Linked DNA regions of Homo sapiens: regions 2, 3 and 4 are each reported to be linked to region 1. The links are microRNA targets in miRTarBase. Many come from high-throughput screens and were not tested one by one. Region 1 holds a microRNA gene; each other region holds the end of a gene's coding sequence.

What was found. The annotated mature microRNA hsa-miR-6895-3p reads UGUCUCUCGCCCUUGGCCUUAG and lies in region 1 at 979-1,000, opposite strand. An mRNA with a match to its seed (bases 2 to 7 or 8) in the 3' UTR can be bound and repressed. Matches are read on the target gene's strand: a 7mer-m8 pairs with bases 2 to 8, a 7mer-A1 pairs with bases 2 to 7 and ends in A, and an 8mer does both.
Region 2: the mRNA of NAV2 is a reported target of hsa-miR-6895-3p. Seed matches in the 3' UTR shown: 8mer at 641-648 and 7mer-A1 at 717-723.
Region 3: the mRNA of H6PD is a reported target of hsa-miR-6895-3p. Seed matches in the 3' UTR shown: 7mer-A1 at 2,645-2,651.
Region 4: miRTarBase lists PEAK1 as a target of hsa-miR-6895-3p. Seed matches in the 3' UTR shown: 7mer-m8 at 1,872-1,878.

What each region holds. Positions count from the first base shown.
Region 1 is chrX:53,194,433-53,197,609 of GRCh38, forward strand. MIR6895 (microRNA 6895) reads right to left here and starts at 1,056; the gene lies at 979-1,056. It overlaps KDM5C (lysine demethylase 5C), which reads right to left. Exons shown (of 26, transcript NM_004187.5): 19 at 2,254-2,612; 20 at 1,484-1,622; 21 at 799-978; 22 at 499-636; 23 at 1-306.
Region 2 is chr11:20,117,935-20,121,111 of GRCh38, forward strand. It overlaps NAV2 (neuron navigator 2), which reads left to right. Exons shown (of 38, transcript NM_145117.5): 38 at 199-3,177. The coding sequence ends at 324. All of the region lies in intron 2 of LOC107984418 (a long non-coding RNA gene), which reads right to left. Among named protein-coding and RNA genes, the nearest start is that of DBX1, 41 kb to the right of the region's middle.
Region 3 is chr1:9,264,359-9,267,533 of GRCh38, forward strand. H6PD (hexose-6-phosphate dehydrogenase/glucose 1-dehydrogenase) reads left to right here. Exons shown (of 5, transcript NM_004285.4): 5 at 1-3,175. The coding sequence ends at 511. Among named protein-coding and RNA genes, the nearest start is that of SPSB1, 27 kb to the right of the region's middle.
Region 4 is chr15:77,111,722-77,114,874 of GRCh38, reverse strand. It overlaps PEAK1 (pseudopodium enriched atypical kinase 1), which reads left to right. Exons shown (of 10, transcript NM_001385026.1): 10 at 1-3,153. The coding sequence ends at 719. Among named protein-coding and RNA genes, the nearest start is that of TSPAN3, 42 kb to the right of the region's middle. RefSeq lists a silencer at 438-626.

The sequences.
Region 1 (3,177 bases):
CATACACAGTGGACACAGGAATTTGGTGTCCCATTCCCACCAGGCCAGCAGTGGGGATGAGGTGGGATTGGGCCTCGGAGAGCTGAGGAGGCGAGGCACTGACACACACCGCCCATGGAACCAGTCCTGACACAGGTCACACTGCAGAGCTCCCGCCCCAGCCAGCACCTGCCCACACACACAGATAGAGGTTGTAGAGGAGGCCGTGCTCGATGATGCCAGTGGACTGGGCTTGGCCGAATTGGTGCGACGCAGCTGCAGGATACCCTCCTTCTCCTTCTGTTCCCCCTCCTTGAAGGCCACGATCTGCCATACCCAGGACAGGAGCAAAGTGGGTCAGCAGCCTACCCCTTCCCTTCTCTGGGCCCCCCCTTAACACCCCCACTCCCAAACCAGGAGAACTGAGGCTCAGGGGACAAGCGGTCTGCTCATGGCCACCCAGCTCAGACACTCTATCATCACCAAGCCCTTCTCCCCATCTGTGTCGAAGCTCCTTACCACAGAGCCTGGGTCCCTGAGGTCCTGCGCAGACAGCCCCAGCAGCTCTGTGTCAGATTTGTACAACCCCAGCTCCTTCTCCATCCACCGGCTGCGCTTGGTGCTGTCTGAGCCGGCATCTGCACATGGGCAGAGAACCTGGGGCAGGCAGACAAGAGAGGGAATGACTGGGCTTCCCTTACATCCCCCGCCTCCTTCCCTCCCTGGTGCCCCTACAAAACCCATGTTATCTCATGAGCCATCTCACAGAAGCCAGGGCAGGCGTTAAGAGACGCTGTAGGTCAAGGTCCCAGGCCTCACCTCCAGCAGCGTGTAGCAAGAATTTTTCTTGAGGAAGGTCTTGGAGGCCTTCTCCCTCCAGGAGTGCGCTGTCAGTACCTGTAGCTCTAGCTGTCTCAGCTCCTCCAGCCCCACAGGTAGGTCCCGGCCCACAGCTACTAGGCCCTCCAAGTCATCCAGGCAGGGGTAGTGGTCACCATTCTAAGGCCAAGGGCGAGAGACAGCTCAGTTCAACTTGCCAATGCTATTGATGCTTACTCTGTGCCTGGCCCTGAGCTGGAAAGATGAACTGGGCTCAGTCTTGAGGGATTAAAAAAATAGGTGTCATCCTAAGGAACAACCACTTGGCTCTCTCCCACAACACCGGCATCTACTGACTGGCTCAGCCCCAAATATCTAGTCAGCCTTCTGTTGTGGTTTGCCTCTTCTCCTCTCCTCCATGCCCCTGCCCTGCTCAGTCCCATACCACCTGCTTCCCTGGCCCACCAATCTCATCCTAACCAGTGCCCTCTCTTCCTTCAGGCCAGCCTCACACTCTTCCTCTCACCCTGCTCATCAGGCACATCTTGCCTCCTGACTACATGCCATGCCCCCTTCCTCTCTCCAGCCAACCCAACCCATCCCAGCAACCCAGCACATCCCAGTGTATATGCCATCTCTTCCCAGCTGGACTGAAGGCCTGGGGTGGGAGTGGCAGGGTCCTCACTTGGATCTCATCAACATCAGCAATCCAGGCCCGGGCCTTAGCAAGAGCCTCCTTGAGAGCCTGGATGTTGGGCAGGTGAACAGGGATGTTTTCCGCTTCACGGATTATGGCCTCAAGTGTGGCTGGTGGATGCTTCTGCCTAAAGGTAAGGAAAAAAAGAACGCTCAGTCTGATGTGGTCTGCCTGACCAGAAGCCCAGCCTGACCACCAGATATATCTGCATGGGCCCCTTGGGTGTCTGTTATTCCTGCTGTCACTTGGGCCTACTTGCTTGTATTCCACCTAAGGGTAGCTGCCAGTCCCTGCTTCCCCAAGACTGCATGCACCCAACTTCATCCCTTCTGCCACAGCTCTTGCACCTCTGTTTGTCTGCCAGTCTGCTGGCCTGCTAGCAATGCCTACATATACAACCTGTATTGTGTAATCTGTTGCTGCAGTTTGTCAACTGCCCTGTGTGGGGTCTTTCTACCAACATCTGCCCATCTGCCTGTCACTTGTGCTTCTGGGTATGCGCACATTAGCCTGTAGGGCTAGTCTTCTAGATAATCTCTATCTGTCCATTTCTGCTTCTCCATCAGCCTCTCTTTGCCTTTAAGTATACAGAGTTGTTTTTTAAAAAAACGACAAGATAGACAACAAAAGAGGGGAGAGTCAATACAGTAACACAGGAGCGTGATACCTAAGGCCACCCATGGGCATCCTCTTCTGGGTCTCCACTCAACTTTGATGTTTGGAATAGGGCAGGGAAGGGAAGCAGCAGCTGGACCTACCTGGCCTCCAGGCAGAGGTGGGCTTTCTCCTCCCAGCGTTCAGCAATGGTCAGCAGTTCCTGCAGCTCGGCCTGGGCTTTATCCACAGCAGGGCTAGGGGCTACACTGGCACCCGCGACCAACAGTCCTCGCATGACAGCCAAGGTGCCCCTTCGGGCTGAGGGGGCCAGTGTGCGTTTCACCTCATCCAGCCATCGCGCCTGTTCCACCTGCCGCTGGAGCTGCTGGGCCTCAGGCACCTCCACCCCCAGCTGCCGCCCCCTCTCCAACAGGGACTGCAGTAGCCCTGGACTGGAGGGCAGTGAGGCCAGGGCCTCACGAGCCTCAGCCTGGTAGGCCTCCACCTGTTCCAGAACACCCTACCAGGACACAGGATGAAGAACAAACTCCTCAGCTGGGCCCACTGAGGGGTTCCACCACCAGATGGAACCTTGTCCCACCTATCTTCTTACCCTCCAAGCTTTTGGGGCAAAGGAGCCTAACATGGGCTGAGCTCTCCTTCTCCAAGCCCTAAGACAGTTGGGGTTCCTAACACTGACTGCTCATTAGAATGCCCTGGGGAATTTAAGAATGCAGATTCCTGGGCCCCACCCTGAGAGATTCTTAATTAACTAATAATTATTAATCTATGCTTTATTTAACTTTTCAGAGGGCTCTGTTCTCAGGGCACCAAGAGACCTCCCTGCCCTAAAAATTGCTATGATTAGTCCTCACATAAACCCTTGTGCTCACCACCCTGGGGTCTGTTGCCCTCTCCATCTCACTCCTCCTCCACCTTCATGAATTTCCCTCCACTTTCCAAGCCCAACAAGCACCCCTGTTACCTCCTTCTCCTCTACCCCTCCTCCAGGAAACCTTACCTGGACTCTGTATCCTATACCCATACCCTTGCCACCTGACCCTCAAGGCCCATTTCTAACAGAC
Region 2 (3,177 bases), not on the chromosome of region 1:
AAGTCATGCAGCTAGTAATTGGTGAAGCTGGGATTTGAACCCTAGAAGCCTGGCCCAAAGTCCATGTTCTTGTCCACTGCCTCCACTGTGGGCTGTTATCCCAGGTGAGTCTGGAGGAGGTGGCATGACCTTTTAGGAGTCCAGGGTGGGCGGCCAACTAGACAGAAAGCAGCTCATGCTTCTCCACTCTTCCCCTAGATGAACATGCTGATGAGGCTGCAGGAGGCAGCCAACTACTCCAGCCCCCAGAGCTATGACAGCGACTCCAACAGCAACAGCCATCACGATGACATCTTGGACTCCTCTTTGGAGTCCACTCTGTGACAGGGGCCCGGAGCCCAGCGCCCTCCTCTTCTCCTCACCGCATTCCACCTGCATCCCCCACATCACCCTGAAGATGACTTCCTGAGCCAGCCCCCAGCCACAGCCTTAGAGCTGCGGGAACACCGAGACCCCCCGTCCTTCAGCCTCGACCTGGGTGCAGGCATCCCGGGCCAGCTGCCTGCGGACCGCTTCCTTCCACAGCGAGAACTGCACTACCTTCTGTTGTACTTTAATTATTGTTTTGCCTTGTTGCTGTGACCTCCCTAAGACACTGAAGATACTTCTCGGGAAAGGATCATCGCCGTTGAAATGAAAAGAGAGACAGAGAGAAAAAAAAAAAGAGAACCCACATGAAGCTCTGAAACCAAACAGCATCCTGCCATGAGCTTCCCAGAGACAGAAGAGACTGGAGCAAAGTCGGAAACACAGAGAAGCACGGCTTCCCCTCAGCACAGACCCTCCAGACTGGGTCTCAGAGCCGTGCCACCCACCCTCCCACACAGCCGGCCACAGGGAGAACTGGTGCTAACCAGGGTGCTTGCTTTGGTCACGTTCAACGCACTACAGAGCTACGACACAGGGAAACCTTAGGAGCAAATAAACCGTGCTTTCATGTTTTTTAAATGGTGCTTTCCTTACCCGAGAGGTATTTTGCCTGTTCCAATCAAACCACCCCATTCAGGTCCATCAGCCTCTGATTAATATCCGTGAGAGTGAGTGACGGAGTGAGAGTGTGAGCGAGTGGATGTGGCTGTCAGTGCAGAACAGCATGTGTCTCTTTCCTTCTGATATATGAATGAATCAGGTTTTTTTTTTTTTTTTTCTGCAAACACTGTGTATAGTGAGACTTGTTCTACTTTGGAGAACAGGTTACCTTTTGAAAATGAGGTTGAGTTTCTTCCTTTCTGATGCATTGATTTTTGAAGATTTTTTTTTCCCCCTTCCCCTCTTGGTCAGAATCAATCCTTTGGTGAAAGTAAGAACCGCAGGAGTTGAGTTTTGGTTTGGTCCTGCTCAGTTTTGGTTTTTAGTTGTCCATCCTCACAGTCCTACACACTCGCCTCCTCCTGCTAGGGCTGGGGGTATCTGTGTCCTTTAAAATGGATGAGGACCTGGTCCTCGACATGTGGGTGAGCCATGGACCTTGCCTTCCCTTCTCGTCCTTGAGGGTTTAGAACACACACCAACACCTCCAGCGTCCCCGCCCCAGCTTCCGGTGGGGTGATGCGGTCACCCTGCAAAAGACTTGCACTTTCCTCAGAACCAACATGACGCAGCTCAATAAGGGTGAGGGTCACTCCCTCCCAGAAGCCCCGTCTGGACGAGCCTTGCCTGACCTCTTCGGTGCTGACCTTCCCAAAGTGATGCCTTACTGGTTTTGTACTAACTGTGTTCATTTTACATAAGTGTCGTGCCTGCCTGGGGTTTGTTTTTTTTGTCATTGTTTTCCCCATTGAAACAAACAGGGCTAAAAAGTCATCTGTTCATTAGGAGAACTCAAGTTGCTGTGACTTTTCTCATCCAAAAGACTCATTTGTGTGGATGCGTGACCATGGGAAAAAGAAAAAAAAAAAGATCCATTTTTTAGGTTCTTTTCGGTCTCCAGCTGACAACCCAACTGGACAATGATCTGTCTGGTGCAGGAGAAGGCAAAAGTTTCTACAAGTCTACATGACCTTGCTGATACTTGTTCTAATAGAAACCCAGTCTGCTGTGTCTTCAACATACTGGTATTTTCATTACAAAGTATGGTAAATTTTTGAGTTGTTTGTTTCTGTTTTGTAAAGAGAATCCTTATTGGACACCAGTGAAGGTGTCTCTGTTTTAATGATCAGGGTTTTTATTCCATCTTTTGCATTTCTTCTATTTCTGAAGGTTTGTCTCTTGGCATCTTTTTTTAGTTTCTTACCATAAGAGTTTGACCCGAAACTGCTCACTTCACATTGGATGACACCATGTTCTTCCTCTTTGAAAAGAAAAGGGGAATGTGTCCCACTAGTGAAAGGAAAACTTTTCAACACTATCCCTGCTTTAGTCTCAGCAAACTCAGACTATTCTGCTTAGCCTTCATTAGTCATCTGGGTGTGAGTGTGTCTTGTTCTGTTTTTCTTTTTAATAAAACTTTTAAACCATATATTTAGCCTGTGACCAGGGGGGCCAAACCCTAAGATTTCTGGTAAACCTGAAGGGTGGCCCTCCTCAGACAATTTATCTCCCAGCAATGACCCTACTACACTCGCGTACTGTGAATTTGGGAGGAGGTAAAGTTGACTTCTCCTCGTGGGCAGTTTTCCAATCACCTTGTGAGTAGACACCTGCCAATATTGTTTGAAACCTTTTTTTAATATGACATCCTCTCTTGTCATTCTCTTCTCCCCTTTCCCACAGACTTCCCTCCTGGGTCCAGGTTCAGAACCAAGACTTCTGTACCTAGTGCTGCCTGATTGGTGAACATTGACTTCAAGTAGCATAGCCCTTGTGTGACTCACAACTCCGTGTCCTTCCTAAAGTTTCGGGAAGCAGGGTTGTCTAATATGCACATTTCTTATTTTGGTCATATTTTTACTTTAGTGTCACTCACCTTTTACAAAGTGACTTTGTACTCATTTAGGGCTCTATCGGAAATGCTTCCATTTTGCCTTTTCTACAGTTAGGCCAATTTTGAAATATATAAATTCTATGCAACATTTATGTTGAGTTACCAATGGAAGCCAAAAGTTCTCTTCCCAAACTGCCAAGAATGATACAGGCCATAATTGAAATGGGAATACCTTTTAAGTTTCATTAGGGGTGGGGTGGGAGTGGGACAGGAACAAGACTTGCCTAGATCTTTGTTGTATCTTGGGGACTTTT
Region 3 (3,175 bases), not on the chromosome of region 1:
CTGCGTCCCACTCTCAGACCCGGAGTCCAACTTCCAGGGCCTGCAGGCCCACCTGCTGCAGCACGTCCGGATCCCCTACTACAACATCCACCCCATGCCTGTGCACCTGCAGCAGCGGCTCTGCGCCGAGGAGGACCAGGGCGCCCAGATCTATGCCAGGGAGATCTCAGCCCTGGTGGCCAACAGCAGCTTCGACCTGGTGCTGCTGGGCATGGGTGCCGACGGGCACACAGCCTCCCTCTTCCCACAGTCACCCACTGGCCTGGATGGCGAGCAGCTGGTCGTGCTGACCACGAGCCCCTCCCAGCCACACCGCCGCATGAGCCTTAGCCTGCCTCTCATCAACCGCGCCAAGAAGGTGGCAGTCCTGGTCATGGGCAGGATGAAGCGTGAGATCACCACGCTGGTGAGCCGGGTGGGCCATGAGCCCAAGAAGTGGCCCATCTCGGGTGTCCTGCCGCACTCCGGCCAGCTGGTGTGGTACATGGACTACGACGCCTTCCTGGGATGAGGGCGCCTGTGCCCCTTGCCCGCTTCGCTCCTGTGCTTTCCTTCGCCCGTGTCTTCCCTCCCTTCTCGGCCCCGCCACCTGCCCAGCGTGCCCTGGCTCTCCAGAACCTTCTATCCCACAGTCAGGCCCCAGAGAGGGCAGGACAAGCCTTGTCCCGATGCCTTTGACCGGCAGCTCTGTGTATTGGTGGATAGATGCAGAAACAAGGAAGAAATGGAGTCTGCTCCTGAGAAGCTTCAAATTCAGGCCAGGAGAGAAGTCTTAAGAAAAGACCTCCAGCAGTTACACATTCATATCAACCAGCACAACACGGGATGGCGCCCAAACTCCGGCGTTCACAAGAGGAGACGTGACGTGGTGGGCTGAGGTTAATCAGGGAAGGTTTCCTGGGGGAGGTGATCCTTGAACTGGCTCCCGGGGAACATTCAGAGCATGATTGGTAGACAGAAGGGTGCAGAGGCGCCCAGGGGAGTACATTGCCCCGTGCAAAGCAGGGGCATTGGGGACTGTCTTGAGACCCTGAGGGGGTCAAGCCCCTCCTTCCCCAGCTGCCCCTCCTTCTAGAACCTCTGCACATCTAGCCTCTGGCCCTCCTCTTCACTGCCTCCACCTGCTCCCGCTTGCCATCCCTGTCTCCTCCATCCTGGCTGTGCAGTAGGAATTCCAGGCTCCTCCCTGTGTCTTTGCTGTTCTTCAGACTCCATTTATAGAGAATGAGGGCTGATAACAGGAATACAGTGGCAAAGACTAGACTGTGGAAAGGGTTCCAGAAATCTTTTTTCTTTTTTAATTAAAAAAAATATTTGCAGAGATGAGCTCTTGCTATGTTGCCCAGGCTGGTCTCAAACTCCTGGGCTCAAGCGATCCTCCCATCTCAGCCTCCCAGAGTGCTGGGATTACAGGTGTGAGCTACTGCGCCCAGCCCCAGAAATCTCAGTGCTGTTTGGAGCTCCATTTCTCATTTGATGACTTGCTCTGCGTGGGGAGGTGGGGTCTCATTCCCCCAACTTCCTCAGGGAGGACCCCTGCCCTCCGCTGCTCCTCTGTCCTGCTAGCCTTCCTCCAGGAAGCACACTGGGTGCAGATAATCAGGACATTCCAGAGATCCCCAATTTAAGAGGGTCATTTCCATCTCAGGGGACTCCCGGATGGGTGTTTCCGCTCTCAATAGCCCCTCTTGTTTTACCAGGAAAGATCCAGTTAAATCACCCACTGAGGTGACAGCTCATTAGCGGGGAGAGAGATGGAGCATCGAGTGACACTGGGCCATCCAGGCGGCTCTGCTCCCACCAGACAGGAGCTAGGCCTCACTGGCAGGGGGGCTGCCCACAGCCTTTTCAGGGGCTCGCTTGGCGGGTGACGGGGCCGCAGCCAGGCCTTCTCTCCCTGCCCCTTGGTGACCCCGTGGCTTCCTGTCTGCTGGCCTCTCCTGCTACTTATCACTTCACCACGAACTCTCTGCCTGAGACTGGGGAAGTAAGCGGGTATCTTCTCAGTGAGCATAGGTTGGGGACTGTGATCTTGAGAAGCCATGGGCCAGCAATACCTGCTTTTCTGAAGCCCCCAAGGAGGGCTCTGACATTCTTTTTAAAAACACCACAAAGCAAAATTCCCAGGACATGTGTAGTTTTGTTTGTTCAGTATCCCACAACTTAAGGCTGGGAGATGGAACTCTTGGTTAAGGTCGATTTTTCTGTCTGGCTTCTCCGCACCTTCCACTTGCTCTCTGGATCAGGCAGATATAAACTTTCTAGCGCATTTTGAGAGAGGGCTTTCTTGGGTGAGGGAGCATGGCAAAGTCGGTTTCTCTCTGGACTGTTTACACTTCAAGGCGGTGGATTTAGAGGAATCCTGGCTTTCATTTTCAATGCCAGTCTGAGACATGTTCCCAAGCCGGGGCTCTTGTTCACACCACTTACTCTGGCCACCAACAACAACCCAGGCCAGACAGAGCATCTCTTTTTTTTTTTTTTGAGACAGAGTCTCTGTCGCCCAGGCTGGAGCCCAGTGGCGAGATCTTGGCTCACTACAACCTCCACCTCCCGGGTTCAGGCAATTCTCGTGCCTAAGCCTCCCGAGTAGCTGCGACTACAGGCGCCGGCCAGCATGCCTGTCTAATTTTTGTATTTTAGTAGAGACAGGGTTTCACCATGTTGCCCAGGCTGGTCTCGAACTCCTGAGCTCAGGCAGTCTACCCACCTCAGCCTCCCAAAGTGCTGGGATTACAGGCGTGAGCCACCGCGCCCAGCCAGAACATCTGTTTTTACACCCAGAGAGCGCCCCTCGTTAGGACAGAACCACGGTGCCCAGAGCCAGGAAGCCGCCCTCCTGGCGCCCAGCATCTGAGCTTCTACACGTGATGGGCGGGCTCAGGAGAGGACAGGGAGTCGTGGTGGAAGTTCCACAGCTGGCCGCGTGGGGGGGCCCTTGCACCGCACTGCCGCCTCCTGACTGCCCCTATCCCCGCAGCCCCTGTGCCGGATTTCATTTCCCTCCTCTCTCCCAGGGTACCTGGCCCCAGCACTCTCCCATCTGTTCTTCAGGAACCGACTCCTCTCCAGTTGCAACACCAGGGAGAAAGGGGCCTCCACATGCCCAAGTACCCCTGCAGGATGAAGGGCAGGCCGGCCCTTGATGTGCCATTTCTGAATAATAGTCACTGCC
Region 4 (3,153 bases), not on the chromosome of region 1:
AACCCTACCATGTCACTCACTGCGATCTACGCCTAGAGAACCTGCTACTTGTCCACTACCAGCCTGGGGGGACTGCCCAAGGCTTTGGGCCTGCAGAGCCCAGCCCCACCTCATCTTATCCCACTAGGCTTATAGTGAGCAACTTCTCTCAGGCCAAGCAGAAGAGCCATCTGGTGGACCCCGAGATCCTCCGGGACCAGTCTCGCCTTGCCCCAGAGATCATAACAGCTACCCAGTATAAAAAGTGTGATGAGTTCCAGACAGGCATCCTCATCTATGAGATGCTGCACCTACCCAACCCCTTTGATGAGAACCCAGAGCTGAAGGAGAGGGAATACACACGAGCAGACCTGCCTCGCATCCCATTCCGCTCCCCCTACTCCCGGGGTCTGCAGCAGCTGGCCAGCTGCCTCCTGAATCCCAACCCTTCTGAGCGGATCCTCATTTCAGACGCCAAAGGCATCCTCCAGTGTCTGCTCTGGGGCCCCCGCGAAGATCTCTTCCAGACTTTCACCGCCTGCCCTAGCCTAGTACAGAGGAACACCCTGCTCCAAAACTGGCTAGACATCAAGCGAACACTGCTCATGATCAAGTTTGCTGAGAAGTCCCTGGACAGGGAAGGTGGAATCAGCCTTGAGGACTGGCTTTGTGCTCAGTATTTGGCTTTTGCCACTACAGACTCCCTCAGTTGTATTGTGAAAATTCTGCAGCACCGTTAATGTGTACCTGGATGATGCTTTTACTACATCTTCACCTTCTTCATGTCACCCATGCACTTCCCCTCCCTAGTGCTCACTCCAAATTCAAGGAAAGAAGAAAGGCAAACCTCTATCCCTGTCCGTGAACAAGTGGGTCTATTCAGAAAGGTTATCCACTGCCCCAGATTGAATGAGAAGCTGAGTCTGTCTTAACTTTACAGAAATTCAGCTGCACAAACTTGCAGTTGCCTTCCCTTGAAACACCTTCTATCCTAATAGTCCCATAAATGCAGGTAAAAATGAAAATCCATATTCTTGAAGGGACAGCTTCTTTGGTATGAACTCAGCCAGTGAGCTGTGTCCATTTCCTCCATAATTCTGGATATCACCTATCTTTTTAGCACCAAGTATTTATTCTCACTAGCAGTAGACAGACTTAACCAGTCTCTACCACGACCCAGTAGACTCTGACAACAGACTCTTCCTTTAAGGTGTCAACAACTGACTTACTAGGCAGGACTGCCATCCTTAGCATCAGCCCAGTTTTGGTTACCAGGGACTATATCTTTTGTTCCAGGAGAGAGTAGAAAGAAAAGGAGAGATCCCATCCTTGGGTCATAGACCCATTTTCATTGCCATTATCTGTAAGTATGTGCACTGCATGGAGGACAGCCCTAATAGTCTCCCCTCTGCTGCCACTGCCTGATTCTCCACTCTGTCCCCACTTGCCAGTGAAGTTTGGATTTATCAGCCACTTGTGGCCCATTACAGAGCTGACCCAAGGTGGTGTCACCAATGCCTCAGCAGGGTGGAGTGCAGTTCAGAGCTTATAAATAGCTGGCAGGGCATGAGGAGATGATTTTCTTGCATGTGCAATTCTCTAGGGGCCATCAGGAAACAGAGTTTAAAGTACCCTTTGATTACTGTCAGAACTGTCAGCATTTGCAGTTTTCCCCGAGCAGTAATTGGCCAGCTCCCTTCTATCAGTAGCCAGTGTTAACTAGTTTACCAAATGCTGTAAACAATTGCCCTGAATGAAATAGCTGTCAGTGGAGCTCTAAGATCTCCTTTAGAGGGCACAGTGAGGTGGGCTGTTGGGATGGCCGTAGGCAGGGGAGAGGAAGAAGGCCACTGATGAGACTGCTGACCTCCTCAGAAGGTTGACCTCTTCTAGAGAGACTGCCTCCCAGTGTTTAAGTGGCTCATTGCTCCTTCTGACTCTGTAAAATGGCTCTGGAGGACAGCTCACAGGAATTCTGATTGCTGAGGTGGGTGATTGAGAGCTGTTCACCATGTGTGCAGCCTGTGCTCCCCTTCTATGGATATGTGTGCAATTTTTGTATGTATTTTTTTAGCTGTATATTACAGTGTTTATGTTGCAACTTCACCTGAAGCGAGTCTACAGAAACCCTCCCCCTTCTTCCCTTGGCACATATTTGCGCTAAGAGATGAGCGTTCCTTCCACTGGGGTTGTGTGTGTGTGTGTGTGTGTGTGTGTGTGTGTGTGTGTGTGTGTATGTATACACATGTTCACCTGTGCTTGTTTTATTCAAAACTGTGAGTATGTGTTTACTTTGACCTTGAAATCCCAAGAGTCACTCGAACAATGTGTGTGTACACTTGTGTGCCCATGTGTGCGTGCACACGCATGCTGGAAGTAGAGGCCAGGCCTCTAGAAAAGCAACCTGTGGCAGGGTTGACAGACATGTTCTCTGTGCCTAGTGAGTGAGTGAGCCCTGAGGCCCCTCATCTACCAGTGCAGAGTTTCCTTAAAGCCAAGACTGACTGTGCAGTATTACTTACATAGCACATTAGTGGCCTTGGAAATTTCTAAACTTTTAACATTTTTAACAGCTTTTCATGTGATTCATGTATAACAAAGAGGATCAGGAAAGGAAAATAATGTATTTTATTGTGCTCTTATTACTTTTTTAAGTGATTGTAATATGTGAGGCTCTATTTGGAGAATGTCCCTTATCCCCTGGCCAGCAATATAGGACTCACAGGAAAGAAGGCTGGTTAGCCCACAAAGAGTCTTGCCTCCTCTAGCCAGAGTGCAGGGCTCTGCTCCTAGGAATGGCCATGGAGTGGGCATGCTGCTGCAGGCCAGCAGTCTGCTCTTGGTGTCCTGTGGCATGGCCGCGCCTTGCCTTGAAGGTTGGTGTTTGGTTCATCTTAGCATAGAACATGTGCACATAACTCCTTGCCTGATTATGCACTGAAGGGCAGCACACAGACCACTGACCATGTCAGCCAGCACATTCCCTTAACCTCCCCCACCTCCCATCTTGCAATGTCTTGCATATTGAGATATACCTTCTCAATGTCATGTTCGTGGTGCCTTGCCCATGTAAATTTCAATGTTGACTATTTAATGAGGTTACATATTTAATGCTGAATGTTTCCTGGTCCCTCTATTTGTTATGTCTCTACTTATCTTTTTTTTTCTTTCTCT